7 linked regions of the Homo sapiens genome follow. Changing the gene in region 3 together with the main gene of any one other region gives a genetic interaction. Each region holds a gene or a part of one and is shown on either strand. Other genes may lie near its edges. The genes, in order: KRAS, EIF3C, XPO1, FDPS, EGFR, RIT1 and GNL2.

Region 1 (4,119 bases), on a different chromosome or scaffold from region 3:
TCTTAAATAAAATGTTAAACTTCTTATAACTAGGCTAACTCGTTATTATATGACATAGCCACTGAGTGATTCATTTGCTTAATATGTAGTTTTTGGAAAACTAAACCCTCAAAGAAATAGAATATAAAATAGTATAATAATGATTATTTTAATAGTTTTATGCAGCTTTGTCAGATTTAAGAGAACTGTAATGCCCAAATTCTTCAATCTTTCAAAACTTTTATTTTTTAAAATATATAATGCCACTGTTTATCCAATCCAAGCAATTCTATGCTATACACACGATTGCTTTTAAGACTGTTAAAGTGACACCATCTCAAATCATCTTTTCATATTCTTTTTTATGGTTTTCTTTTTTAATGATGTATCTAAAAAGTTTAAAGTCTTGCTTTTGTAGAATAGTCAAGAGTACAGAAGGCTGTGGAGTCAAACAGGCCTAGGTTTCAATCCCAGCACCACCACTACCGATGCAGTCTGGAGCAAGTTACTCCACTGCTCTAATCCCCCAAGAACTTCATTTATAAAACAGGGATATTACCTACCTCATAAACATTATTTAAAAATTTTTATTAAATATTATATGCATGGCATTAGCAAAGACTCAAAAAATAAAAACTATAATTACTCCTTAATGTCAGCTTATTATATTCAATTTAAACCCACCTATAATGGTGAATATCTTCAAATGATTTAGTATTATTTATGGCAAATACACAAAGAAAGCCCTCCCCAGTCCTCATGTACTGGTCCCTCATTGCACTGTACTCCTCTTGACCTGCTGTGTCGAGAATATCCAAGAGACAGGTTTCTCCATCAATTACTACTTGCTTCCTGTAGGAATCCTGAGAAGGGAGAAACACAGTCTGGATTATTACAGTGCACCTTTTACTTCAAAAAAGGTGTTATATACAACTCAACAACAAAAAATTCAATTTAAAAATGGGCAAAGGACTTGAAAAGACATTGTTCCTGCTCCAAAGATGACGGACAAATGGCCACTAAGCACCTGAAAAGATGCTCAACATCATCAATAGTCAGGAAAATAAAATCAAAACCATGAGATGCTACCACATACCCATTAGGATTGGCTATTATTAAAAAAACAAAACAAAAAAACTCAAAAAATGGAAAATAAGTGTTAGCAAGGATACAGACACTGAAATCTTTGTGCATTGCTGGTGGGAATGTAAAATGGTGATGCCATTGTGGAAAACAGTGGTAGTTCCTCAAAAAGTTAAACACAGAATTACCATATGATCAGCAATTCCATTCCTAGGTATATAACCAAAATAACTAAAAACAGGGACTCAAACAGATACATGTACACCAATGTTCGCAGCAGCACTATTTATAATACCCAAAATGTGGAAATAACTTAAGTGTCTGTTAACAGATGAATGGATAAACAAAATGTAGTATATACATACAGTGGAACATTATTCAGCCATAAAAAGGAATAAAATTTCATATAGGTTGAGCATTAATGCAGGTTAATCCAAAAATCTGAAATCCAAAATGCTCCAAAACCTGTAACTTTTAGAGCCTGACATGATGCTAAAAGGAAATGCTCACTGGAGCATTTGATTTTGGATTTTTTTTTCTTTCATCTTTTTTTTTTTTTTTTTTTTTTTGGAGAGATAGGGTCTTGTGTTGCTCAGGCTGGTTGAACTCCTGGGCTCAAGCGATCCTCCTGCCTTGGCCACCCAACGTGTTGGGATTACAAGCATGAGCCACTGAGCTCCATCTGATTTTGGATTTTTGGACGAGGGATGCTGAACCAGTTAAGTATCTATGAATATTCCAAAATCCAAAAAAAAAATCTGAAATCCAAACCACTTCTGGTCACAACCATTTTGGATAACGGATGCTTCAACCTGTATATACATGCTACAACACAGATGAACCTTGAAAACATTATGCTAAATGAAGTAAGCCAACACAAAAGGACAAATACCACATAATTCCACTTATATGAGGAACCTAAAATAGGCAAATTCAAAAAGACGAAAAGTAGACTACAGATTACCAGGGGCTGGGGGAGGGAGGATTACTGGGGACTATTTGACAGGTACAGAATTCTAATTTGGGATGATAAAAAAAAGTTCTCAAAACAGATAGTGCTAATGGTTAGACAACATGGTGATGGTTGCACAACATTATGAACACACTTAAGGTCACTGAATTGAACACTTAAAATTAACTACCATGGTCTAGGCGCGGTGGCTCACACTTGCAATCCCAACACTTTGGGAGGCCGAGGTGGGCGGATCATGAGGTCAGGAGATCAAGAACATCCTGGCCAACATGGTGAAACCCCATCTCTATTAAAATACAAAATATTAGCCGGGCGTGGTGGCGGGCGCCTGTAGTCCCAGCTACTCAGGAGGCTGAGGCAGGGGAATTGCTTGAACCCGGGAGGCGGAGGTTGCAGTGAGCCAAGATCGCTCCACTGCACTCCAGCCTGGCAACAGAGCAAGGCTCCGTCTCAAAAAAACAAAAACAAAACAAATGAAAGAAAACTACCATGGTAAACTTTATGTTATGCATATTTTACCACAAAAAAAAATTTTTTAAAGGTATTATATGGAGAGTCAACAATGCAAGTGTACATGCTGGTAACAAAAAGTTATTGACAAAACAAAATAATTTCAAAAATGGGATAGCTCTACCAACTCTATTATTCAAGATGATTTAAATGACAAGAAAAATCAATCAACTTATAAATAATTGTCATGCATCTATTTTATCTATAGTCAAAGGCACACATAAGGAAATGGGCAATACTCAAGATTCTAATGGCCTCATCCACTTCTGAAAACTGTGGAAAAATAATCTAACAGCCAGATGGATATCTCTAAAGAGCAATATTGTTTCATCTGCAAATCCTGAGGGGCCTCTTTTTTCTTTTCTAAAAAGAGAGAGAACTGCAACTATAAGATTAAGTAAAAGAAGGGAGTGGGTAACTTTAACAGAATCTTGAAATAAAAATCTGATTTTCTTCTGACTTTTGGGTAATACTTCTGCTCAAGATTTCACACATTCTGCCAAAACAGTCCTCAAAAAATATGGTAAAGGGATGTTACAATGTGAAGCCATGAAATCATGAAATAAGAAGCAGGGCTAACAACAGGTATAAAGCATAAACATAAAAGCAATTATTTTCTTAATGTTCCACATGTAGGCTATAGTATTAATGTATCTTTTTTTTTTTTTTTTGAGATGGAGTCTCGCTCTGTCGCCCAGGCTGGAGTGCTGTGGTGCAATCTCGGCTCACTACAACCTCTGCCTCCTGGGCTCGAGTGATTCTCCTGCCTCAGCCTCTTGAGTAGCTGGGATTCTAGGTGCACGCCACCACGCCCGGCTAATTTTTGTACTGTTTTTTTAGTAGAGATGGGGTTTCACCATGTTAGTCAGGCTGGTCTCTAACTCCTGACCTCGTGATCTGCACGCCTCAGCCTCTCAAAGTGCTGGGATTACAGGCATGAGCCACTGCGCCCAGCCTCTAAAGTATGTTTAGTTTATGAATTACTCTGTAGACCATTCTATCAGAGGGAGAAAGAGAGAAAGAATGGTCATTACAAATGTTGTTAGTAAAGTATTTCAAAATGTTTACAGTATAAGGAGAATATAAAGATGTCTAAGTGCAGCATGATCACAATAATATGTGTTTATGTATTTATACAAATCTACTATGTGTTTAAAAACTGGTAATATATACATCAAAATGTTATAAAGGTTATGTCTTTAATGGAGATAATTTAAAAGACATTTATCTTGGCCGGGTGCGATGGCTCATGTCTGTAATCCCAGCACTTTGGGAGGCCAAGGTGGGCAGATCACCTGAGGTCGGGAGTTTGAGATCAGCCTGACCAACACGGAGAAACCCCATCTCTACTAAACATACAAAATTACCTGGGCCTGGTGGTGCATGACTGTAATCCCAGCTACTCGGGAGGCTGAGGCAGGAGAATCACTTGAACCCGGGAGGTGGAGGTTACGGTGAGCTGAGATTGTGCCATTGCACTCCAGCCTGGGCAACAACAGCAAAACTCTGTCCCAAAAAAGACATTTATCTCTTGCTTATCTCTTTTCTTTGTACTAGATGCTATGTTAAATGTT
Region 2 (4,625 bases), on a different chromosome or scaffold from region 3:
CATCTTCCTGCTCCAGTCACACCTCCCACTAGCAATTCCATCTTTGGGCCTCAGTCACGGGGTCACTGTTCCCAGTTCAGTAAGTGTGCCTCTAGCCTCCCCACCTGCTTGTAGCTTGTGATATGGGACTCGAAATCACGGTTGTATTTTCGGATCTTCTGACGCAAGGTGCTCAGAGCCTTGGCATTGTTCTTGTTCATCTTCTTCTTCCCTTCCTTATCTTCCCAAAGCTAAAGGGAAGAAGAGGAAAGAAACAGAGAACAGTGATTTGAAACTAAGTAACATTTCCTAAACTCCAGGCTTCTTCTCCACTTTTGAGTCTTGCTATTGGAACACCACTGGTACTACTTATTAACTACATCTGTTAGCTTATTTTTAAAAGATCCTATACATCCCACCACTAAAAGTACAAAACCATGAATAAGTGGTGGTAATAAATATAGGCATCACACCTCATTAAGATAGTCCTCTAGGTCAGCCAGGATGCGGATATAGAACCGGGGGACACCTTCTTTGTCCACAATGCTTTTGGCCTTCCCATATGCTTTTCCCAGGAGCTCAAACTCTTCCAGGCACTTGGTGACATCACGAATCTTCATGGCATTACGGATGGTCCGGATAAGGTTGGTCAGCTCCTCAAACCTGGGTTGGGAGCCCGATACCACATTGAACGTGCCCACCGAGGGAAAACTCACCACTGCTCCCAGAGACTCCTATCACCCAGCCTCCCCACAGCTTCATTGCTCCCAGAGACTCCCATCACCCAGCCTCGCCATGGCTTTACCTCTTGTCCTTGGCACTGCGGACAACTCTCTTGGTATCTTCTTCATCCTCGCTCAGCAACAATGGCCTGTTTGGAAGGAACAGAGGCCATTAACCTCCTTTCCCAGTCTTTCCAAGAGATCCGTATTTCCCTACTCAGGACAGGTAGAACTAAGTAATCCAGGCCATCCACACCACACCCATCCTCTTTTTGACTCCTCCTCAGGGCCACTTCATATACAACTCAATCTTTTAAGTGTACACTAAGTAAGGCCTTTTGCTCAGTGTTGTAGCAACACAAAGATGACATTCACTATCCTCTCAAAAACAAATGAAAGTGCTAATTTACTGTGTAACTAATGACATAGAGACACAAGTCACCACAGAAGTAATGAATAAAAAAAGAGGTAGAGAAAAATGATACTTGAGCTATAATGAACAGAAAAGGCTTTAGGGAGGTGGTACCTAAACTAGATCTTAGCAACATTTCCCAAAGTATGAGAGGCCAACAGCAAGGAGAAAGTCTCAATGGTATTAACACCTCCACTGCTAGTATTTTTCTACGATAATAAGACCAGACCACAGGCTCACAGTCAGCAACAGTATCTCTACTCTTTTTGTTTGTTAAGAGATAAGGTCTCACTATGTTGCCCAGGCAGCCTCCAACTCCTGAGTTTCAAGGGATCCTCCCACCTCAGCCTCCAGAGTAGTTGGGACTACAGGCATGCACCATCTTGCCTGCCTCTTTTCCCTTTTTATTATTTTTTGGATTATTTTAGCGGTGTTTTTTGAGGTGGAGTTTTGCTTTTATCGCCCAGGCTGGAGTGCAATGGCGCAATCTCGGCTCACTACAACCTCCGCCTCCAAGGTTCAAGAGATTCTCCTGCCTCAGCCTCCTAAGTTGCTGGGGTTACAGGCATGTGCCACCACAACCGGCTAATTTTTGTATTTTTAGTAGAGACGGGGTTTCACCTTATTGGCCATGCTGGTCTCAAACTCTTGACCTCAAGTAATCAGCCTCCCAAAGTGCTGGGATTACCGGCTTGAGCCACCTGCCCAGCCTGGATTATTTGGTATTTTATGGCAAATGACACTGGTTTCCACCTGTGGAAGTGATACGAAACCATATGCATATTGGCATATACATGTGCAATACATACTTTTAAAACAGTAGCACAAACGTGGCAGATGTTTAAGAAACACCATTCCAGTGGGGCACAGTGGCTCATTCCTGTAACCCCAACACTTTAGAATGCTGGGCGGGAGGTTCACTTGAGCCCAGGAGTTCAGAACCAGTCTAAGCAACACAGTGAGACACCTTCTCTACAAAAAATTAAAAACAATTAGCCTGCTGCGATGGCGTGCACCTGTAGTCCCATCTACTTGAGAGGCTGAGGTGGGAGGATCGCTTGAGATCTGAAGGTCGAGGCAGCAGTGAGCTATGACCCCTCAAAAAAAGAAAAAAAAAAGGAAAAAGAAAAACCATTCTATTGTTCCAAAGGGTAAAAAAAAAAAAATTAATGTACAGAAATGGCGGATGGGTATTTACGTAGAAGTGAACAGGCATAGAAAATGTTTAAGCACCTGCGTACACAGCAGGTGACCAGACTTCAGAGTCGCATCAGGGGGCTCCCAGATACCAATCAAGCATTTTGCATTTCCTTCTGTGAGCAGTGAGAAGTCACTAAGGACTTCTCGGCGGTAAAATGAGAGGAGACAGGTAGAGGCTGTAGACTTAAGGCCAGTTAAGAAGCTGATGCAACAGATCTGGCTTGGGAAACCTCTGTGATTCTATCCCTTGTGCCTGGTGGGTGGCTACCGGCTATCACAGCCCTCTAAGGCTGTCTCTCTCCAACACCGCTCCGATCCTGCAAACTCTGGTCATTGTCCAAACCCACTCTCCCCGCCCTCACCTCCATCCCCTCCCATGTGCACTGCGTTCCACAGCCTGCCTAACCCCGCACTCCCAGAATGGTCACAGCCACAGCCCCCGCAACTCACTGTTTGCCATAGTTGCCTCCGACAGGTTTGGTGACGAGCTCCTCCCCGGACAAGGACGACTCGGACTCGCTGTCCGAACCGGTGGTGAAAAACCGCGACATGGCGACGGCGCGGAGGTGCTACGGCCGGACCTGCGGGGGAGCCAAGGCGTCACCGGCCACGCGAAGAGGCCCGAGCCAACACCTCCCGACGCCCAACCCCTCACCGGCCCCACCCGGACCTCGACCTGGGTCTCCCACCACGAAGCACGAGGCCCAAAAAATACCAACCAGCTGAGCCCGCGAGTCACACCGCAGGGCCCTGACAGCGGAAACGCCGAGAGAGAAGGCGGGTCCTCGCGTCACTTCCGGGAAGCGCCGACTAACTACACTGGGAGACTACAACTCCCAGTGGCCTTCGCGCCATAAGGGGGCGGGGACAAGCCTGAGGGAACCGGGCGCTGAGACCTTGGCTGCAGGCGTCGCGAATCCTACCGCGCGTTGGTGTCGGGATTTAAAACACGAAGATCGGCGGGGCGCAGTGGCTCACGCGTGTAATTACAGCATTAATAGGCATTAATAGTATAGAAGTAGATAATCCTGCCGGGTGCGGTGGCTCACTCACGCCTGTAATCCTAGCACTTTGGGAGACCGAGGCAGGCGGATTACCCGAGGTCGGGAGTTCGAGACCAGCCTGACCAATATGGAGAAACCCCATCTCTACTAAAAATACAAAATTAGCCAGGCGTGGTGGTGCATGCCTGTAAGCCAAGCTACTCGGGAGGCTGAGGCAGGAGAATCGCTTGAACCCGGGAGGCGGAGGTTGTGGTGAGCCGAGATCGAGCCACTGGACTCCAGCCTGGACAACAAAAGCGAAACTCCATCTCAAAAAAAAAAAAGTAGACAATGCTAGCCAGGCACAGTGGCTCACTCCTGTAATTCCAACACTCTGGGAGGCTGAGGTGGGTGGATCACCTGAGGTCAGGAGTTCGAGACCAGCCTGGCCAATATGGCAAAACCCCGTGTCTACTAAAAAATACGAAAATTAGCCTGGCACAGTGTCACCTGCCTGTAATCCCAGCTACGTGGGAGGCTGAGGCTGGAGAATCACTTGAACCCAGGAGGAAGAGATTGCAGTGAGCAGAGATCACACCACTGCATTCCAGCCTGGGTGACAGAGCAAGACTCTGTCTCAAAAAAAAAAAAAAAAAAAAAAAAAGTAGACGATGCTAGATCTTGCAGGTCTTTATAGGCCTGTGGTTTGGAGCCGCCATCGGCAGAGGTTTTAGTGCAAGGGACTGTGTTACATTTTTCAAGGTGGTTTTGATATGGGAGCGGGACAGGGAAGTGCTGGGAAGGGAAGAGCATGCTCTTCCAAAGTGCTGGGATTATAGGCATGAGCTACCACACCTGGCCGTTTTGTTTTTTATTGTGAAATATTTCAACAGACAAGAATAAAGACTATTCCAATGGACATCTATGTACTCACAACCCACCCAGCACCGTCAAAACTTAATATGAGGCTGGGCATGGTGGTTCATGCCTGTAATCCCAACACTTTGGGAGGCAGAGGTGGGCAGATCACTTGAGGTCAGGAATTCGAGACCAGCCTGGCCAACATGGTGAAACCCCATCTCTACTAAAAATACAAAAATTCGCCTGGCATGGTGGCAGATGCCTGTAATTCCAGCTACTCAGGAGGCTGAGGCAGGAGAATTGCTTGAACCCTGAAGGTGGAGGTTGCAGTGAGCCAAGATCGTGCCACTGCACTCCAGCCTGAGCGACAGAGCAAGACTCTGTCTCCAAAAAAAAAAAGTTAAAAAAAAAAACCAAGGGGTTCATTGTACGTCTGTAAATCCATAAATATCTTTTTTTTTTTTTTTT
Region 3 (4,119 bases):
AATAAGACAATTGCATTAAAATAGAATTTGCTGCCATTATTGTTATGGACATTTTTAAGCTGTTATAAAATAGCCAGGAATTAATGACTTTTTTTCCGCCCTGCCAAGCTAGTTTGTCTAAATATAATGTAAAGAAATTAGCTACTCATTTTCTGGTCCACGAAAGTTCCTAAAATGGGAAGAAGTGGAGATCTGACCTTGTTAGTTCTAAATACACTAAACTGGGAGTGCCATGGATGGCTTTCAGGATGTCCTGAATCCTCTATAATTGTATACAAAATCGTGAGTTTTTAAAAACTGGGTTAGAGCTATTGGTTCCTCAGAGTCTCAGGCATCTTAGACCCCCAAAAAGGTTAAGGACTACTGACTTAACCAATTAGGTTTGAGTGGCATTGGCTTTGAAGAAAAGCAGAGGAAAGATATATTTTATAATTCTGGGCAACAAAAAAGTGGATGTGTGCCAGCATCTTAGAGTAGAATCCTCTTAAAAGGATAGCACTGCATATGAACTAGTAGGTTTTAACCAGTGCATATTTAGGCGAAGTAGCTCATTTTTCTGTTAGAATTCTTTTTTATTTGGGAATGGGCAAGCTTTTACAGCTTTTACCTTGCCAATGAATACCTGGAATTTAAAAAATCTTGTTAGGCATATTGCCCATAAAGTTTTTTTTCCTAGATCATATATTCAGTAAATATGTTTGTAGCTTTATTTCAATCCCCCAATTCATTGAGGGTTGAAACAATTTGAATGGTTTGAGTGTAGAAGCTAAGTTATTTCTGTAGAGGCTAAGGGCATTTATACCAAGATATGTTAGACTTGTGGTTCCTGCTAACCATTGCTGTAGACAATAGGAATTACTGTATATCCACATTTTAATTTTTAACATCATTCTGTCTTTGTTTGTTTGTTTTTGAGATGGAGTCTCATTCTCTTGCCCAGGCTAGAGTGTGGTGGTGCATCTCGGCTTACTGCAAACTCCGTCTCCTGGGTTCAAGCAGTTCTCCTGCCTCAGCTTCCCAAGTAGCTGGGATTACAGGTGCCCGCCTCCATGCCTGGCTGATTTTTGTATTTTTAGTAGAGACGGGGTTTTGCCATGTTGGCCAGGCTGGTCTGGAACTCCTGACCTCAAGTGATTCGCCCACCTCGGCCTCCCAAAGTGCTGGGATTACAGGTGTGAGCCACCACGCTCGGCCCATTCTGTCTTTATAGCATTATTTTTATAAAGTTAAGATAATGTGAAGTGAGCTTTTACTGAGTTATTCAGAAGACCCTACTTGGGAAGAAAAGAAAATCACATTCACTTGAACTTAATCCTACTTGCTTAAAAAGTTTTGACATCAAGATACTGAACTGTATCACGTTTTAGGACCATAAAATCCTAATAGTGGATGCGTTTAAATAATAGGTTAGCATACTTTATAAATGTTAGTAGAATAGGAAAGTCTTCCTGGTGTATAAACTAAACACTAGAAAAGTTGAATGGACCATAATAATTTATGTAATTATCAAATAGCTAAGTAATTTCAGCTTTTGTTACTTGCTTTTACTATCTCAGTTTTCTGTAATTAAAGTCTCTAAAGTATTCATTAAAATATTTGTAATAACATGGTTGAAGTAAAATAACTTGTAGGAAGTTTTTGATAATACCAAAACTTGATAGGCAGCTTCAATTTTTTTTCTTTATTTTCAGTAATCTATGCCAGCAATTATGACAATGTTAGCAGACCATGCAGCTCGTCAGCTGCTTGATTTCAGCCAAAAACTGGATATCAACTTATTAGATAATGTGGTGAATTGCTTATACCATGGAGAAGGAGCCCAGGTAAAGTAGCCAACCAAAACTTTATAACATTATGACAGTGTAACAGAGTTGTTGGGTTTAGAATAAAATTTTAAATTATCACCTTTAAAAAAGATATTCCATAGTTTGCATTAATTTGGAATTCTGTATTAACCATAATGAAAATTGGTTTGGAGAAAGAAATTGCATGTTTGACATGGTTAGAGTGGGTTGTTTTGGAATATTATACTTGTTTTGTCCTTAAGAGCCAAATGTTATTAAATACTTTGTAGGTATTAAAGGTTCTCTGTACTTTTATATATACTTAATATGTTTGGCACTAATACGATTCTTCTACTTTTAAAACATTTACAGAAGTACTTCACAGATATGTTTGTTTAAATAAAAACAGGAATACCAAGTATTTTTATGTTAGTTGAATTTTGTGCACTTTTCAAAGTGGTACTGTTAATGTAGGGAATTATCTTAAACATAAACCAAATTTTGATCAGTTTAAGATTTTTGGTTTTTTTGAACCCAACTAAAAGGTGAAACAGAAATGTGTGTACAATTTTAAATTGTATATGTCACAAGAAAAAAAACTTGATTTTTTACCTGTGGGGCCAAACTTTTTTTTGAGACAGTCTCGCTCTGTGGTCCAGGCAGGAGTGCAGTGGCGCTATCTCAGCTCACTGCAACCCCTGCCTCCTGGGTTCAAGCGATTGTCTTGCCTCAGCCTCCCTGGTAGCTGGGATTACAGGCACACGCCACCATGCCTGGCTAATTTTTGTATTTTTAGTAGAGATGGGGTTTCACCGTGTTGGCCAGGCTGGTCTTGGAACTCCTGACCTCAGGTGATCCACCTGACTCGGCCTCCCAAAGTGCTGGGATTACAGGCATGAGCCACCGCGTGCTGGCCCAAACATGTTTTTGAATGAGTAAAAAGTTTTGCAGTTGGGTCAGAAATCTTTTTTTTTTTTCAGATGGAGTCTTGCTCTGTCACCAGGCCTGAGTGCAGTGGCACAGTCTCGGCTCACTGCAACCTCTGCCTCCCAGGTTTTCAAGCAATTCACCTGCCTTAGCCTCCCGAGTAGCTGGGACTACAGACGCGCCACCATGCCCAGCTAATTTTTTGTATTTTAGTAGAGATGGGTTTCATCATATTGGCCAGGATGGTCTCCATCTCCTGACCTCGTGATCCGCCTGCCTTGGCCTCCCAAAGTGTGGAGATGACAGGCATGAGCCACCGCGCCTGGCCAGAAATCTTTTATGGTAGTTTTGTTGCCAGAACAGTAGATTTCTGGTTAGATAAATGTTCAGCTAGTAGATGGGAGGTTACTTATATTGTCAAGATATTTATATTTGCATAATTAAGAAACTGAGTGCCGGCCGGGCGCGGTGGCTCACGCCTGTAATCCCAGCACTTTGAGAGGCCGACGCCGGCGGATGACGAGGTCAGGAGATCGAGACCATCCTGGCTAACACGGTGAAACCCCGTCTCTACTAAAAACACAAAAAATTAGCCAGGCGTGGTGGCGGGCGCCTGTAGTCCCAGCTACTCGGGAGGCTGAGGCAGGAGAATGGCGTGAACCCGGGAGGCGGAGCTTGCAGTGAGCCGAGGTTGCGCCACTGCACTCCAGCCTGGGCAACGGCATGAGACTTCGTCTCAAAAATAAAAATAAATAAATAAAATAAAATAAAAAAACCTAAACCTGAGTGCCATTACACTTTCTGAAAATATATAAGGTGGATACAGTACTATCTTTTATAGTAGTCCAAAAAGCATCATGTATAAATGTTTCCATTCCCTTATGAAATGCAACAGTACTGCTTTTACTATAGTAGAAACTTGAAAAAGGTCCATGGAAACGCTAAAAGTAGAAAAAATTACTCTTGCAGTGATTCTGTAAGCTTGTTAGCCCAGGTTTATACTTTTAGGGCGTTTTGATCAGTATATTATCTCCTAAAGCATTCTTGAAAAAATTAACCATCCGTATTTATTATCCCTGTCATTTAGTTGTTACTCATGCTATACATTCAACATGAAGCTTTAAGCTTCATTTCTTCTAGCATGGATGCATAGAAAGCAGCTGCTTTTGGAGGAAGCTATGAAAGTAAGGTTGGGTTCAACTCTGAATGTAATATTGGAAGCACAGGTCTGTAGCCATTGGGAAAAAGGGCATTTAATTTTTTCCGCATAGATTCAGCTACTAATACTGTTTAATCTTCACACTAAACTAGTTCACTACATCTAAAGGTATGATAAATAAACCAACATAGAGCAGTGTTCTTCATGGCTTGTAACAGAATTAGTGGCAATTTTTGTAATTGAGAATAT
Region 4 (4,119 bases), on a different chromosome or scaffold from region 3:
ATAACAGGTGTGAGCCACTGTGCCTGGCCTGGGTTTTTTTTTTTTTTTTAATTTCCCTAATAAATAGAAAGTGCTGGTGGGGTTAAGAATCAGTGCTAGGAGGCAGAGGAAATTTGGGGAGGCCATGGAATTAATTATCTTGGAGACCATCATGGTTGAGTGGTGGTGGCTGAAACAAGATTGTCCTTGCAGTCACCCTTGGGAGAGGCAGTGAATGGGTGGCTTCAGGGAAACCATGCTACTCCAAATAAACACAGAGTCAATTAAACATGTGCCTTTGATGTGGAAAGCCCAGGACCTCCACACTACTCTTCTGAGTTTAGGTCAGAGGTAAAGATGCAGATGGATGCCTCCTTCCCTGAGGACCCTGCCTATAACAGCAGTGATTGCAACGGTCCTTTCCCCACGGCCCATGCTGGGCTCTGGCAGGCGGTGTTGCATGCTTCCTTTGCAATGTGGATCCACTACAGCACACAGGATTAGGATGGGATAAAGTCTTAAAAACCATGTCTTCTAGGCCAAGTGTAGTGGCTCATGCCTGTAATCCCAGCACTTTGGGAGGCTGAGGCAGGTGGATCACCTGAGGTCAGGAGTTCGAGACCAGCCTGACCAACATGGGGAAACCCCATCTCTACTGAAAATACAAAATTAGGCTGGGCGCAGTGGCTCATGCCTGTAATCCCAGCACTTTGGGAGGCTGAGGCGGGCGGATCATGAAGTCAGGAGATCGAGACCATCCTGGCTAACATGGTGAAACCCCGTCTCTACTAAGAATACAAAAAAAATATTAGCCGGGCATGGTGGCAGGCGCCTGTAGTCCCAGCTATTTGGGAGGCTGAGGTAGGAGAATGGCGTGAACCTGGGAGGCGGAGCTTGCAGTGAGCTGAGATTGTGCCACTGCACTCCAGCCTGGGCAACAAGAGCGAGACTCTGTCTCAAAAAAAAACAAAAAACAAAAAACAAAAAAAAAATTAGCCAGGCGTGGAGGCACATGCCTATAATCCCAGCTACTCAGGAGGCTGAGGCAGGAAAATCGCTTGAACCCGGGAGGCGGAGGTTGCAGTGAGCCAAGATCGCGCTATTGCACTCCAGCCTGGGCAACAAGAGCGAAACTCCATCTCAAAAAAAAAAAAACACACAAACCATGTCTTCTGCTCAAGCCTGGGTGACAGAGTGAGATCCTGTCTCAAAAGAAAATAATAATAAAAATTAAAACCTGGGTATAGGGCCGGGTGCATTGGCTCACACTTAAAATCCCAGCACTTTGGGAGGCCAAGGTGGATGGATCACGTGAGGTCAGGAGTTCGAGACCAGCCTGACCAACATGGTGAAACCTTGTCTCTACTAAAAACACAAAAATTAGCCGGGTGTGATGGCACGTGCCTGTAATCCCAGCTACTTGGGAGGCTGAGGCAGGAGAATCGCGTGAACCCGGGAGGCGGAGGTTGCAGTGAGCCGAGATTGCGCCATTGCACTCCAGCCTGGACAATGAGAGTGAAACTCCATCTCAAAAACAAAAACCTGGGTATGTATCTAGAAGTGGAAAAACAAAAAAAGGAAATAAGTTATGAAAATAAAAACCATGTCTTGAGCTGGGTGCGCTGGTGTGTGCCTATATCCCTAGATTCTCAAGAGTTGAGACAGGAGGATCACTTGAGCCCAGGAGTTCAAGTCCAACTTGGGCAACATGACAAGACCCTTGTCTCTTTAAAAAAGCAACCCAAACCATGTCTTGAAAAGCTATTTAATGGTCAGACACGATGGCTCACGCCTGTAATCCCAGCACTTTGGGAGGCCGAGGCAGGCGGATCACTTGAGGTCAGGAGTTCAAGACCAGCCTGGCCAACATGGCAAAACCCAGTCTCTACTGAATGAAAATACAAAAATTAGCTGGCCTAGCAGTTGGTGGTGGCAGGTGCCTGTAGTCCCAGCTACTTGGGAGGCTGAGGCAGGAGAATCGCTTGAATTTGGGAGGCGGAGGTTACAGTGAACCCACATGGCGCCACTGCACTCCAGCTTGGGTGATAGAGTGAGACTCTATCTCAAAAAAAAAAAAAAAGAAAAGCTATTTAAGGAACCAAAACATAGTTTGACTGACTGCAAGAAGTATCACAGGGAATGTTAGAGTGTTTTATTAATTTCTTTGTCAGACAAGTGTTTAGGAAACTCTCACTCCAGGCCTAATGCTGTGCTAGGCTCTGCAAATGCTAAGAGGGGGAAGTTACTGTCCCTGCTTCCAAGGAGATCATGGTCTAGTGGGAAACCCGACACGTTCAGGTACCTTCAGATGGGCACTCAGAAGAGTAAGCCCTTAGTTAATGTTTAAAGATGTTTAAAGATGTCTGAGACTCATAGGTCAAAGTCAGATTTCAGTTCCACCTTATTAGACCTGCACTGCTAAGGAGCTGCTTTAGGTAAGGCTGTGTTCCTAGTCACCAGGGTGTTCAAACACAGTGCTGGGGGCAATGTGGGAATAGCCTTCTTTTATTTAGGAAGTAATGTGAAGTCAGTTTCATGAATAGATCTTACTTTAAGCATTCATTGAGGTTTTTGGCAAGAATAGAGTACGGTATATGAAGGTGTTTCCTAATCTCCCTGACACCAGGAATAATCTAGGGCTCATTAGAGATGTCAAAGATCTGTTCTAGTTTCTTAACCTAAAACAAGAGTGTTTTAGTTCCATTTTATAGGCGGGGAGTCTGAGCCAAACATGTTATGTCACTTTCCAAGTCTCCATAGCACAGAAGTCTTCTGTCTCCCCATCCTGACTTTCCCAGCTCATAGGGACTGTCAAAGGCAGCAGCTCTGGCCGGCTGTGATGCCTCATGCCTGTAATCCCAGTAATTTGGGAGGCTGAGGCAGGAGGATCATTTGAACCCAGGGGTTCAAAACCAGCCTGAGCAACATAGTGGGACCCTGTCTCTACAAAAAATAAATTAAAAAAAAAAAATAGCCAGGCATGGGGTATGTGCCTATGGTCTCAGGAACTCAGGAAGCTGAAGTGGGAGGATCACTTGAGCCTGGGAGTTAGAGGCTACAGTGAGCTGTGACTGCACCACTGCACTGGATAATAGTGAGACTCTGTCCCCTACCAAAAAAAAGCAAAACTATATACAGATATAAAGTAGCAGCTCTGTTGCTGATAGAAGGAACAGTAATGAGGAGCCCTGCAGGTCTTATTCCACTCTTTCTAGCTGCAAGCTTTCTTCCTGGTGGCAGATGACATCATGGATTCATCCCTTACCCGCCGGGGACAGATCTGCTGGTATCAGAAGGTAATGTGGGCAGGAAAATAGCAGTGGGTATGGGGACAGGCCACAGGGAGGTGGTTATATATGGCCTGGTTGAGGTGTTGGGGTGATGGCTCTTAGTATGAACCGAGACTAGAGATTGATTGCTTGTTTTTCTGTCTGTCATGACAGCCGGGCGTGGGTTTGGATGCCATCAATGATGCTAACCTCCTGGAAGCATGTATCTACCGCCTGCTGAAGCTCTATTGCCGGGAGCAGCCCTATTACCTGAACCTGATCGAGCTCTTCCTGCAGGTGTATTGCAGACAGGGCCCGATGCCCAGAGGGTGCCCATGGTAGCCTTGGCCTCTATAGGACATGCTCATCTAGCTGGTTTCAGGGTACAGGATTGCAGCGTGCCTGGAAGGGAAAGAAAGCGAGGAAGGGTGTTGGGAAGTGGGGTTGTGGTAGTGGCAAGAAAGGGCTTCTCTGTCCTGTGTAATTGGAAGAAAGGGTGATAAAGGACTGTGTGTATGAATATGGGCCTTAAGTTTTGGGGCTTTCTCCCCTTCTGTTGCCTTTCTGATTCTGCCCAGTTGTCAGCTGGTATGGGATGTTGGGCTTGGGATACCAGGGTTTCGCATATCTGGAGAAAGCCTGGCTCATGGACCGTCTTTGTCTTGCTTAGAGTTCCTATCAGACTGAGATTGGGCAGACCCTGGACCTCCTCACAGCCCCCCAGGGCAATGTGGATCTTGTCAGATTCACTGAAAAGAGGTGAGGGGAGGTGAGGGACAGCGCGAACCATGTCTGGACAGCGAGGGAGGGCTCAGGATGTGCATTGCCCTCCTGAGGAGTTTCTCTTCTCCCCTTACTCAGGTACAAATCT
Region 5 (4,119 bases), on a different chromosome or scaffold from region 3:
AATTTCCCTTTTTCTTTAAATCTTCTAAAACATGGCCTTGGCCTCTATCCTTCAGTTTTACTTTCCTATTTATGTTTTGTCCTCATTTGTCGTTCAAAGCCTTACATCAATATCAAGAACCTCAGAGCATTCACAAACTGCACTTTTTATTGATTGCAACTAAATTCAACAAACATCATTATGAATTATTTCTTTGTCCGTGGGTATATTTAAAGTCCCTGGTACTGTTTGATGTTCAACACATGCTGGGGGCACATAAAACAGATATTAACTTGGCAATATAATTTGTGTTAATTTATTTTCACACACCAGGAATCGGGCACTACAAAGAAAAGCCCAAATGGCCACGGTGTTGGCTAGATGAACCATTGATGACTGTCTCATTTGTCTTAGGAACTTTTTGTAGCTTAGAAAAATTTAAGATACTTCCAGGAAAAGAGATTCTATAAATTATTGGATTATATTAGGCAATAATACTTGCTTATTTCCTATTGTGCTTAAATTTGCCAAAAATAACGCAATCAAACAACTTCCCGTCTCCCCACAGAAAACCCAAAACCTCCAAAAGCCAAGGGCAAAGAATAAAAGGAAGAGAAAATCAAACAGAATGCCTGTAAAGCTATAACAACAACCTGGAGCCTTATTTTTGATCAACGCAAGGGGATTAAAGAAATAACCTCCTACCCCTCCAGAAGGTTGCACTTGTCCACGCATTCCCTGCCTCGGCTGACATTCCGGCAAGAGACGCAGTCCCTGGGCTCCGGGCCCCAGCAGCCCTCGGGGGAGCACAAGGCATGGCAGACCTGGCCTGTGGCCTCTGCGGAGACAGAGTGGGTCACAGCAGTCAGTGACAGAGCAGGGACCCGAGGGGCCGGAGGAGACGGCACCTTCCCGGGAGGGGCCCTGTGCTCCATGACCTTGGGTGACACAGACATGCTGGCTACCCCTGAAGGAGGAGGACACAGACTGGGCTTCCCAGAGGCCGACCGTGACTGGAAGGACAAAGTAGTTGTGCTGGCTGCTGGGAAGACTGAAATGTGCCTGACAGTGGAGGACAGGTCTTCCTCCTGGTGGGAGCCAGGCACCCTGGCACCCGAGAGGGGGTGCCGTGAGTCCTCCCCTTTGGCAATGGCATCAATTAAACCAGATGGGACTCCATGTTTTCTGTGCTCCCACGGCCACTGCCCCTGCTGAAGGAACCAGGTGTGCAGAGGAGCAGGTGCTGCTGGGCACAGGGTGTGTTTTGATGGTACCCAGGGCAGCCTGGAGCAGAGCTGGTGGTGTTCTGATGACAAATCCCACAGCTGATAGGAGCCATTGGGCCATTGGCTGTGTGCTGTGTGCTAGGCACCATGGAAGGGTTTTACACACAGGAATTTCACTGAATTCTCTCAAAGCACTACGGCGTAGGAATCATTCATATCTCCATTCTATGGATGAGGAAGCCAAAGCCTAAACAGATTAAGGGAATTGACAGAGGCTCAAAGCTAGGGAGGCCAGACCAGCACTTGACTCAAAGCTGACGCTGCCCGTGGCCAAGGCCCAGCACAGGCCAGGCTCTCACCAGCTTCAAAAGCTGAGGCTCTAGAGCCAGAACAGGAAGTGTTGATGTAAAGTGCTCATTCCATTCCTCTGTGTGTGTATGTGTGTAGCTGTAGTCTTTACAGGCTGAAATGAGCAGAGAGTGACCTACAACTAAAAGGTAATATAACTAATACTAAATTTAGTTACTTACATTACAAATAATTGGTAGCCTAAACCTCAGGGTAAATTCATCCCATTGAATGGTAATGATCTGGAAAAAGTTTTAATGGAATTCACATGGTAATTTCACAGTTAGGAATCTTAAGATTTTAATTTGCTTCTTAAGGAACTGAAAAAAGTAATTTAAATGGGAATAGCCCTTCAATATTCTAAATACAAATAAAGGACCCATTAGAACCAACTCCATAAACTAAACAGAAAGCGGTGACTTACTGCAGCTGTTTTCACCTCTGTTGCTTATAATTTTGGTTTTCTGACCGGAGGTCCCAAACAGTTTTTTCCAGTTTATTGTATTTGCATAGCACAAATTTTTGTTTCCTGAAATTATCACATCTCCATCACTTATCTCCTTGAGGGAGCGTAATCCCAAGGATGTTATGTTCAGGCTGACGACTGCAAGAGAAAACTGACCACTACATTGGAGAGAAGAAAAATCATGTGGTGAAAAATTATAAAAACAATGTATCCCTGAAAACTTTGTTTCTCCAGACCACCTTTGATTGACTACAAACTGCTTTCCAATGATGGTAGGTCATGCTGTGGGAGGCACACACTGCACCTTTTGAAAACTGCAGGTGTTTTTAAAGTTCCTCCAGGCAAAAGATAGTTCCTTGTTTATTTAGTATCTTTAACCCAGTGGCAGATGGGGAGGATGAATAAAATGCCTTAATGTCATTATATTTTCTCCATTTTCATTTTGCCTGGAAATTGAGAACATATTCTAACCTCTCAAACAGCCAAATACACTTCAAAGGTGTGGGTTCATCCATCTATCCACCACCCAACCTGTCCCTCTATCCATTCATATATTTATTGAACAAACACTAGAGGTTCTCTGTCCCAAATTCTGTGCAGGTTAAATATGTTTCCTCCTCTCCAGGACGCTTGATCTGGTGGTGACACAACCCCGTAAGCAGATCATTTTGAGCCGGTGTGAAGAGCACAGTGAGTGTGGGCAACATGGAAGCAAAGAGCAGGGGCCTCTGACCAGGTCTGGGAGGGATGCCTGGGAAGTGGGGCCTTCCTCCAAAAAGCTATGCCCAAGGTTGTGAGGCCCTGAAAGCAGTAACTGTGGCATTTTCTTCACCATCCAACATGACACTAGGATGCTATTGGGTGGTCCAATGTGTATATCAGATGACTGGATGGAAGTCATTCAGACCGAAGGGGGGATGTCCTCAGCCACCTGGAGGAGCAGGAAAGCACGCGGTGGACATGAGAACCACTAGCCCCAGCCAGACCACGATGGGTGTGAGAACCACTAGCCCCTCCTGAACCACGATGGGTATAAGAACCACTAAGCCCCTGCCGGACCACGATGGGTGTGAGAACCACCAGCCTCTGCCAGACCACGATGGGTGTGAGAACCTCTAGCCCCTACAGGACCACGATGATGCAGGCTGGGAGGGCTGGGCTGGTTTGGGGAGGGAGCACAAGGCCAGAGTGCACCTTGTGGAGGAGCTGTCTGTAATTGAGAAGGAGCCACAGGAAAGAGATCTGCATTTGCAGGAAGCTCTCATCTGACCCCAGGCTGGGGGCTGGGCCAGCTGAGAGCACTGGATGAAGAGACTGATGTTCAGGTGTTGGATGGCAGGGGGTTAGAGTATCATCCAGAGGCTTCTCCTCTCCCTGCTGCTCTTCTTTCCCCCATCTTTTTCCTTTCTCCTACACAGATGAGTGGTCTCGCATAGGAGCCTGTAACCAATACCATTAGGAATTCTCCCCCACATATGCCCAGGGAGGCCAGGACACCAGGGCAGAGCCAGGTTTTCCTTGCAGGGCAGGTCTGGGGCCTCAGTGAGTCACACCCTGGAACGTGTGGCCACCCTGTCTCAGTAGGAGCTGGAATCACCAGACTTCTCATTAAATGTGAAAAGTAAGTAACCCTTATCTTGTTTAAATCCCTACAACTAAGCCAACTGGCTCATACCAGCCATCCAAGAAAATTGCTCTAAATCTCTTATTTTTATAAGAATCTTGGTCAAAGAAAGCATTCCAGAGAATTCAGAGCAAAAAGGCCTTTCTGGGAAGCAACGGTAGCCACATATTTAGTATCAGAGATTCAGAGCCAAGGGAGTTTATGGGAGGCAATGCATATTTCACGCACTCTTATTCTCTTTAATGTTGCACAGTATTATCTAGTGCTTTAAGAGTCAAGTAGGGGCAGCAGTTCTCATAACGAGGCTGCTTCCAAGGCGGGTTTCACTAAGAGATTCCCATCTCCTCCTCCACACCACTAAACTGATGATTACCATTACCATATTAAAGATGCTTGTGTGTGAGCACCTGCATGTCTATTCCACTGTCAAAGCTGAAAAAGTGGAAATTCTTGAAGAGTGGTGCTAAAAAGTCTCT
Region 6 (3,500 bases), on a different chromosome or scaffold from region 3:
ATTTAGCTGGGGCCAGGAGCGGTGGCTCACGCCTGTAATCCCAACACTTTGGGAGGCTGAGGCAGGTGGATCACTTGAGGTCTGGGGTTCGAGACCAACCTGGTCAACATGGCAAAACCCTGTCTCCACTTAAAAAAAACTAGCTGGGCATGGTGTTGGGCACCTGTAATCCCAGTTACTCGTGAGGCTGAGGCAGGAGAATCGCTTAAACCTGGGAGGCGGAGGTTACAGTGAGCCAAGATCGCGGCACTGCACTCCAGGTGTCACACTCCAGCCTGGGTGACAGAGCCAGACTCTGTCTCAAAAAAAGAAAAAAAAATTAGTTGGATGTGGTGGTATACACCTGTGGTCCCAGCTACTCAGGAGGCTAAGGTAAGAGGATCACTTGAGCCCAGGAGGTCAAGGCTGCGGTAAGCCATGTTTGCGCCACTGCACTCCAGCCTCAGTGACAGAGCAAGACCCTGTCTCAAGAAAAAAAAAAGTTGGGTGCGGTGGCTCATGCCTGTAATCCCAGCACTTTGGGAGGCTGAAGCAGGCAGGCAGATCACCTGAGGTCAGGAGTTCAAGACCAGCATGGCCAACACGGTGAAACCCCATCTCTACTAAAATAAGAAAGAAACACTAAACAATACAACCATGAAACTGATCACCGGGATTGCAAATCTAATTGGGAAAAGAGTTGAGCAAACAGCTTGGACTGTTTGGAGTTGTTGCCTTACTTTTTAATATGTATTTATAAAGTATTCCAGCAAAAGAGGATGTAGCCTCTGGGAAAAAACAAACATGTTACAGTGTTTTTTGTAGATTCTCGTTCTATATCTCATCACAGTGCCAGCCCTGTTTTTAGCCGGAAAGGATTCAGGAGAAACATTATTATGCATTCTGAACTGGATGCATATTCCTAACTACTGTATTTGTTACCAAAAGTGGTTCTACAAATGCTACTGAAAAAAATCTGGAAATTCCTAATGTCCTGAGTATTAATAATAAAGTTTAAAAATGCTTTTATATCAAAAAAAAAAAAAAGAAAAGAAAAATTAGCTGGGCATGGTGGCAGGCGCCTGTAATCCCAGCTACTTGGGAGGCTGAGGCAGGAGAATTGCTTGAACCCAGGAGGCAGAGGTTGCAGTGAGCCAACATCATGCCACTGCACTCCAGCCTGGGTGATAAGAGTGAAACTCTGTCTAAAAAACAACACAAAACAAAAAAACGCTGGGTGTGGTGGCTCACATCTATAATCCCAGCACTTTGGGAGGCCAAGGTAGGTGGATCACCTGATGTCAGGACTTCAAGACCAGCCCGGCCAACATGGTGAAACCCCGTCTCTACTAAAATACAAAAATTAGCTGGATGTGGTGGCAGGCACATGTAATCCTAGCTACTCAGGAGGCTGAGGCAGGAGAATCGCTTGAACTCAGGAGTCAGAGAGGTTGCAGTGAGCCTAGATTGCGCCACTGCACTCCAGCCTGGGCAACAGAGTGAGACTCTGTCTCAAAACAACAAAATTAAAATAAAAATTAAAAAAAAAGAAAGCTGGGCGCGGTGGCTCACGCCTGTAATCCCAGCACTTTGGGAGGCCGAGGTGGGAAGATCATGAGGTCAGGAGTTTGAGACCAGCCTGACCAACATGGTGAAACCCCGTCTCTACTTAAAAATACAAAAATTAGGCCGGGCGCGGTGGCTCATGCCTGTAATCCCAGCACTTTGGGAGGCCGAGGCAGGCTGATCACGAGGTCAGGAGATCGAGACCATCCTGGCTAACACGGTGAAACCCCATCTCACTAAAAATACAAAAAATTAGCCAGGCATGGTGGCGGACACCTGTAGTCCCAGCTACTCGGGAGGCTGAGGCAGAAGAATGGCATGAACCTGGGAGGCAGAGCTTGCAGTGAGCAGAGATCGTGCCACTGCACGCCAGCCTGGGCGACAGACAAGACTCCGTCTCAAAAAAAAATTAGCCGGGCGTGGTGGCATGCGCCTGTAATCCCAGCTACTCAGGAGGCTAAGGCAGGAGACTCACTTGAACCCAGGAGGAGGAGGTTGCAGTGAGCCGAGATTGTGCCACTGCACTCCAGCCAAGGCAACAGAGTGAGACTCTGTCTCAAAAAAAAAAAAAAAAAAAAAAGAAAGAAACACAAAGGGAGGGAAAGAGATATATGCTTACACTAAAATATTGAAAACTATTAGGAGCCCATAATTGATACATCTAATTATGGATATGCCATAATTTCTACTTTTGGACAGCTAGATTGTTTCTCATTTTCTTCTACCATAAATAGTCTTGCAATGAACATGTTATATATAAATCCCTATAAATTTTTTCCAATGGAGATTAACAGAGAAGCATTATGAATTTGACTACTATCAAACTACTTCCAGCCAGGCGCTGTGGCTCACACTTGTAATCCCAACACTTTGGGAGGCCAAGGCAGGAGGATCACTTGAGTCCAGGTGTTCAAGATCAGCCTGGGCAACATAGTGAGATCCTGTCTCCACAAAAAGTAAAAACAATTAGCTGGGAGTGGTGGCACACGCCTGTGGTCCCAGCTACCCTCAAAGCTGAACTGGGATGATTGCTTGAGCTGGGGAGGTAGAGGCTGCAGTAAGCTGTAGCCCCAACCTCACTGCAACCTCCACCTCCCCAGGTCAAGGGATCCTCCCACCTCAGCCTCCCAACTAGCTGGGACCACATGTGCATGCACCACTATGCCCAGCTATGTTTTTTTGTATTTTTTGTAGAGATGGGGTTTCGCCATGTTGCTCAGGCTGGTCTCAAACTCCTGACCTTAAGCAACCTGCCCACCTTGGCCCCGCAAAGTACTGGTGTGAGCCACCTCACCCAGCCTGATTTTCTATTTTAAGGCAAAAAAATCTGTAAGCCAAGCCAAGAATCTGTAAGCCAAGAAACAAAAATGACTAATTGTATAAGATTATAGACAGTATTTTCTTCTCTATCCTCACCTGTCTTAGCTGTTTGAGGTCTGACTTGTTTCCCACAAGAACCACAGGTGTATCGTCAGTACGTCGGACTCGATAAATAAGCTGTTTAAACTCACGAACTTCATGGAAACTTCGACGATCCGTGATAGAGTAACAGATGATAAACCCTTCTCCTGCCCTCATATACTGGTCCCGCATGGCTGTAAACTCTGCCTAGAGGGAAACAAGGGTCATTATGTATTGACGCAATCTAGCCCAACTACACACACAATTAGCTATTTCTTTCAGATTAAAGAAAACGCATGTCGATTACCTGCTATCCTGAGTCAGAGTGCATGAAAAATTAAGAGAGATAAACTATTGATCTTCTCTGTGTAGGCCTTCCCCTCCCCTTTGCTAGAGTAAAAAAGCCTTTACTCATAACATTCTGGGATTTAATACCTGTCCAGCTGTATCCAAAATGTCCAGATTGGCAGGCTCATCATCAATACGGATCCTGATCTTATAAGCATCTTCTACAGGAGGGAAGAAAGGTGTACTATAAAGTCATAAATGCCGGA
Region 7 (3,430 bases), on a different chromosome or scaffold from region 3:
GGCAATCTTCTCATCCAGTGCTTTAATAACGGCTTTGGTGTCGTTTCCCACATTTTCCTCCTCAGGCTCCGAGGAAGACTCTTCCGCATCATCTCTTTGTTGCTCCTGTTCCTCCTCCTCTTCATCAGAAAAGCTCTCAAGCTCTTCCTCAAGATCTGACACCTCCACAGGAACCAGGTCATCCCCAGAAAACTGAGGCACCACGTTGATTTTACCAAAGTTCTGCCGAACTCGTGTGAGAATCTGCTGCATCTCTGTGTTAGCATCACAGTGACTGTTCTCTTCTGTTTCTTCCTTAATGATGGATTCTGACCCTTCACCTGCAGTTTCTGTGACTTCCTCCCCTGGATTGTTCTGGGCTGCTTCTGGGACAACTTCCAAAGATGAGGAGGGTAGAAGCTATTAAGGGGTGGAAATGGGGGAAATAAATAGAATCAGAAAATGAAAAATGGAATTTCTGAACTCATATCTTGCTCTTAAACAGTCCTCTTCTCAGGACTAAGGGAAGGTATTGAAAACACCCAAATTTGAGTCATTTCATTAATGTATTTTTAAACCAATGTACATTAAGCCCAGAGATCAGTACTAGGATCAAAGGAATACATGTGTAGTTCCACAGGATGAACCAACTAAGACTATTTAAACCATTAAAACCAACCAATGATTTATCATAGAAAAGCAAGGCTCCCTAGACCTTCCCTAGGGGGCTGCTGATATAAGCACATGCAAAATCAGCACACACAACTACATAAAAATGAAGGCCAGGCTGGATGTTACAGATGAGAACAGTACTAAGAGAGGCATTTGAGGAGGTCCTCTGATTTAAATGTGTCCCCCAAAATTCATATGTTGGAAACTGGTATGGTTTGGCTGTGTCCAAATCTCATCTTGATTTGTAGCTCCCATAATCCCCATGTGTTGTGGGAAGGACCGGGTGGGAGGTAATTGAATTATGGGGGCAGGTCTTTCCCATGCCGCTCCTATGATGAATTAAGTCTCACGAGAGCTGATGGTTTTATAAAGGGCAGTTTCCCTGGACACACACTCTTGCCTGATGCCATGTAAGACATGCCTTTGTTCCTCCTTCACCTTCCGCCATGATTGTGAAACCTCCCCAGCCATGTGGAACTGTGAGTCCATTAAACCTCTTTTTCTTTATAAACTAACCAGTCTCATGTATTTCTTCATAGCAGTATGAAAATGGACTGATACAGAAACTTAATCCCCAATGCAGCAAGTGTTGGTAGGTAAGGCCTAATAAGAGGTAATTAGATCATGAGGGCTCCATCCCCATGAATGGACTAATGGATCTCGGGGATGGGTTCGTTTTTAAGAGTGAGTCTGTTGGCCGGATGTGGTGGCTCACGTCTGTAATCCCAGCACTTTGGGAGGCCAAGGTGGGCAGATCACAAGGTCAGGAGTTCAAGACCAGCTTGGCCAACATGGTGAAACCCCATCTCTACTAAAAATACAAAAATTAGCTGGGCCTGGTGGCATATGCCTGTAGTCCCAGCTACTCAGGAGGCTGAGGCAGGAGAATCACTTGAACCCAGGAAGCAGAGGTTGCAATGAGCCGAGATCGTGCCACTGCACTCCAGCCTGGGCAACAGAGCAAGACTCCGTCTCAAAAAAAAAAAAAAAAAGAGTGAGTTTGTTATAAAAGCAAGTTTGACCCTCTCTTGCTTGCTCTTGTCCTCCCACTTTCCACGATGGGATGACCCTTGTCAGATGCTGGTGCCTTGATACTGGACTTCCCAGCCTCCAGAAACATGAGCCAAAACAATTTCTGTTCATTATAATTACCCAATCTGTAGTATTCTGTTGCATCATCACAAAACAGACTAAGATAGGAGGCATCCTGAAGCAAGAGTATAAGGTAAGGAGGGGGAATTCTGTGATTGAAGAGAGTTCATTAGAGAACTAAGTCTGGGGACCCTGAAATGACTGGCCTGTTTTAGGTAACCGCAAAGATAAGTATGTGCCAAGCTTTCTACTGGTGTTTCACATGTATAATATCATTTTATCCTTGCAACAAAAACTCAGAGAACTTAAAAGTGATGTTCTAAAGTCAAGAGTGGCCGGGCAAATCACTAAATAAGTACAGAACTATAAAATTCAGGAAACCACACACAAAATTTATACATACATTTTTCTAGGAAGGGCAATTTTTGGCTTTCAGTTTCTGAAGGGGTTTCTGCTCTTAACCAAAAAAGAAAAACAGAATCACAGAGTAAGGCATATGAGAGTGAAACTGCCTCCAAAGGGTTGACAAGAAGTATCTGCCAAGTTCTGGACAGAAATACAATTATAATTAAGCACTAATTAGGGGGCACTTTGGCCCATATCCTTGTTGCTAAAAGTTCCTGAACACTAGGTACTGACCATTTGCATCCCCACTGTCCCTATAGATAGGATTTCTGACATTTGGGTCATAAGACTATGTAAGAATTGATATGCACCCCCATTGTTCCTATAGGCAAGATCTCTGACATTAGAATCATAAGGTTTTTGTTTAAGGATTGCTTAAAATGTCTTTTCAGATCCCTAATTCCAGCAACCAGTTTGAAGATCCCCAGAGAAACGGGATCTGCATGAGAACACAGCTTCTTCATCTCCCTGTCCGTGACTTCACCCTGCACTCTTCACCCAACCAATGACCCTCACTCCAGCCCACTCCAAAACCCTTAAAACCCTAACCCCAAACTCCTCGTGGAAATGATTTCAGGATTCCTCCCATCTCCTCCTTTGGTGACCCTACGGTTAAACTTCTTTCTCTGCTGCAACCTGGTGGTGTCTCAGCATATTGACTTGCTGTGTGCATTGGGCAACAAATCTATTATGGTTACAATAGTTCTTAAGAATTATCTGAACTACTTATCTACACTTACTGACTACATACGGAGGAAGGGCTGAAGACAATGCCAGTGTTTCCACACAGGGTCCCAAGACAGCAGTGATACGGACATCCAGAATGACCCTAGAATCCAGCTGCTAACTCAAAACCTCCAATGGCTTCCCACCATGACACCCTCTCCTGGCCCACGACATTCCAGCCACAGTGACCTCCTTTCAGCATCAGGACACACAGAGCATACTCCTGCCCCAGCTGCTCTGGATGTGCTGTTCCCCTTGCCTGGAACATTCTCCCTAGATACTAGCATGGCTCCTGTCTCATATTAAGGGCTCTGCTGAAGTGCCACTGCCTCAGAGGCCTTCCCCGACCACCCCAAAGTACTCCTCATCTCCCCCAAACCCCTTAGCCTGGTTTAGTTTTCCTCACAGCACGCAAGACTTCCTGACATTATATGTTTATCTGCCTACTGTCTCCCTGTGATATAAATGTCACACTTCCTGGCACAGAGCTCCTAAGACCCTTGGAATTTCCCAAGCGATGGGTATCTTTTTTATTGATTACAAGCCCCTTTCCACC

The links.
Region 1: changes in XPO1 (region 3) and KRAS are lethal when combined (synthetic lethality), as found in Homo sapiens cells (2 studies listed by BioGRID, with this or other methods).
Region 2: changes in XPO1 (region 3) and EIF3C together harm fitness more than expected from each alone (negative genetic interaction), as found in Homo sapiens cells (one large-scale study listed by BioGRID).
Region 4: changes in XPO1 (region 3) and FDPS together harm fitness more than expected from each alone (negative genetic interaction), as found in Homo sapiens cells (one large-scale study listed by BioGRID).
Region 5: changes in XPO1 (region 3) and EGFR together harm fitness more than expected from each alone (negative genetic interaction), as found in Homo sapiens cells (one large-scale study listed by BioGRID).
Region 6: changes in XPO1 (region 3) and RIT1 together harm fitness more than expected from each alone (negative genetic interaction), as found in Homo sapiens cells (one large-scale study listed by BioGRID).
Region 7: changes in XPO1 (region 3) and GNL2 together harm fitness less than expected from each alone (positive genetic interaction), as found in Homo sapiens cells (one large-scale study listed by BioGRID).

What each region holds. Positions count from the first base shown.
Region 1 is NC_000012.12:25,226,571-25,230,689, forward strand, and holds part of KRAS (GTPase KRas), read right to left. Parts: intron 843-4,119; coding exon 664-842; intron 1-663. UniProt on the Homo sapiens protein: Ras proteins bind GDP/GTP and possess intrinsic GTPase activity. Plays an important role in the regulation of cell proliferation.
Region 2 is NC_000016.10:28,709,926-28,714,550, reverse strand, and holds the start of EIF3C (eukaryotic translation initiation factor 3 subunit C), read right to left. Parts: upstream 3,088-4,625; 5' UTR 3,033-3,087; exon of another isoform or gene 2,895-3,032; 5' UTR 2,865-2,894; coding exon 2,764-2,864; intron 851-2,763; coding exon 785-850; intron 643-784; coding exon 453-642; intron 231-452; coding exon 105-230; intron 1-104. UniProt on the Homo sapiens protein: Component of the eukaryotic translation initiation factor 3 (eIF-3) complex, which is required for several steps in the initiation of protein synthesis.
Region 3 is NC_000002.12:61,531,476-61,535,594, reverse strand, and holds part of XPO1 (exportin-1), read left to right. Parts: intron 1-916; exon of another isoform or gene 917-1,172; intron 1,173-1,691; 5' UTR 1,692-1,697; coding exon 1,698-1,823; intron 1,824-4,119. UniProt on the Homo sapiens protein: Mediates the nuclear export of cellular proteins (cargos) bearing a leucine-rich nuclear export signal (NES) and of RNAs.
Region 4 is NC_000001.11:155,314,747-155,318,865, forward strand, and holds part of FDPS (farnesyl pyrophosphate synthase), read left to right. Parts: intron 1-2,107; exon of another isoform or gene 2,108-3,194; coding exon 3,195-3,275; intron 3,276-3,422; coding exon 3,423-3,545; exon of another isoform or gene 3,546-3,650; intron 3,651-3,918; coding exon 3,919-4,007; intron 4,008-4,109; coding exon 4,110-4,119. UniProt on the Homo sapiens protein: Key enzyme in isoprenoid biosynthesis which catalyzes the formation of farnesyl diphosphate (FPP), a precursor for several classes of essential metabolites including sterols, dolichols, carotenoids, and ubiquinones.
Region 5 is NC_000007.14:55,158,197-55,162,315, reverse strand, and holds part of EGFR (epidermal growth factor receptor isoform a precursor), read right to left. Parts: intron 2,178-4,119; coding exon 1,978-2,177; intron 818-1,977; coding exon 685-817; intron 1-684. UniProt on the Homo sapiens protein: Receptor tyrosine kinase binding ligands of the EGF family and activating several signaling cascades to convert extracellular cues into appropriate cellular responses.
Region 6 is NC_000001.11:155,901,350-155,904,849, forward strand, and holds part of RIT1 (GTP-binding protein Rit1), read right to left. Parts: intron 3,456-3,500; coding exon 3,382-3,455; intron 3,154-3,381; coding exon 2,962-3,153; intron 1-2,961.
Region 7 is NC_000001.11:37,568,904-37,572,333, forward strand, and holds part of GNL2 (nucleolar GTP-binding protein 2), read right to left. Parts: intron 400-3,430; coding exon 1-399. UniProt on the Homo sapiens protein: GTPase that associates with pre-60S ribosomal subunits in the nucleolus and is required for their nuclear export and maturation.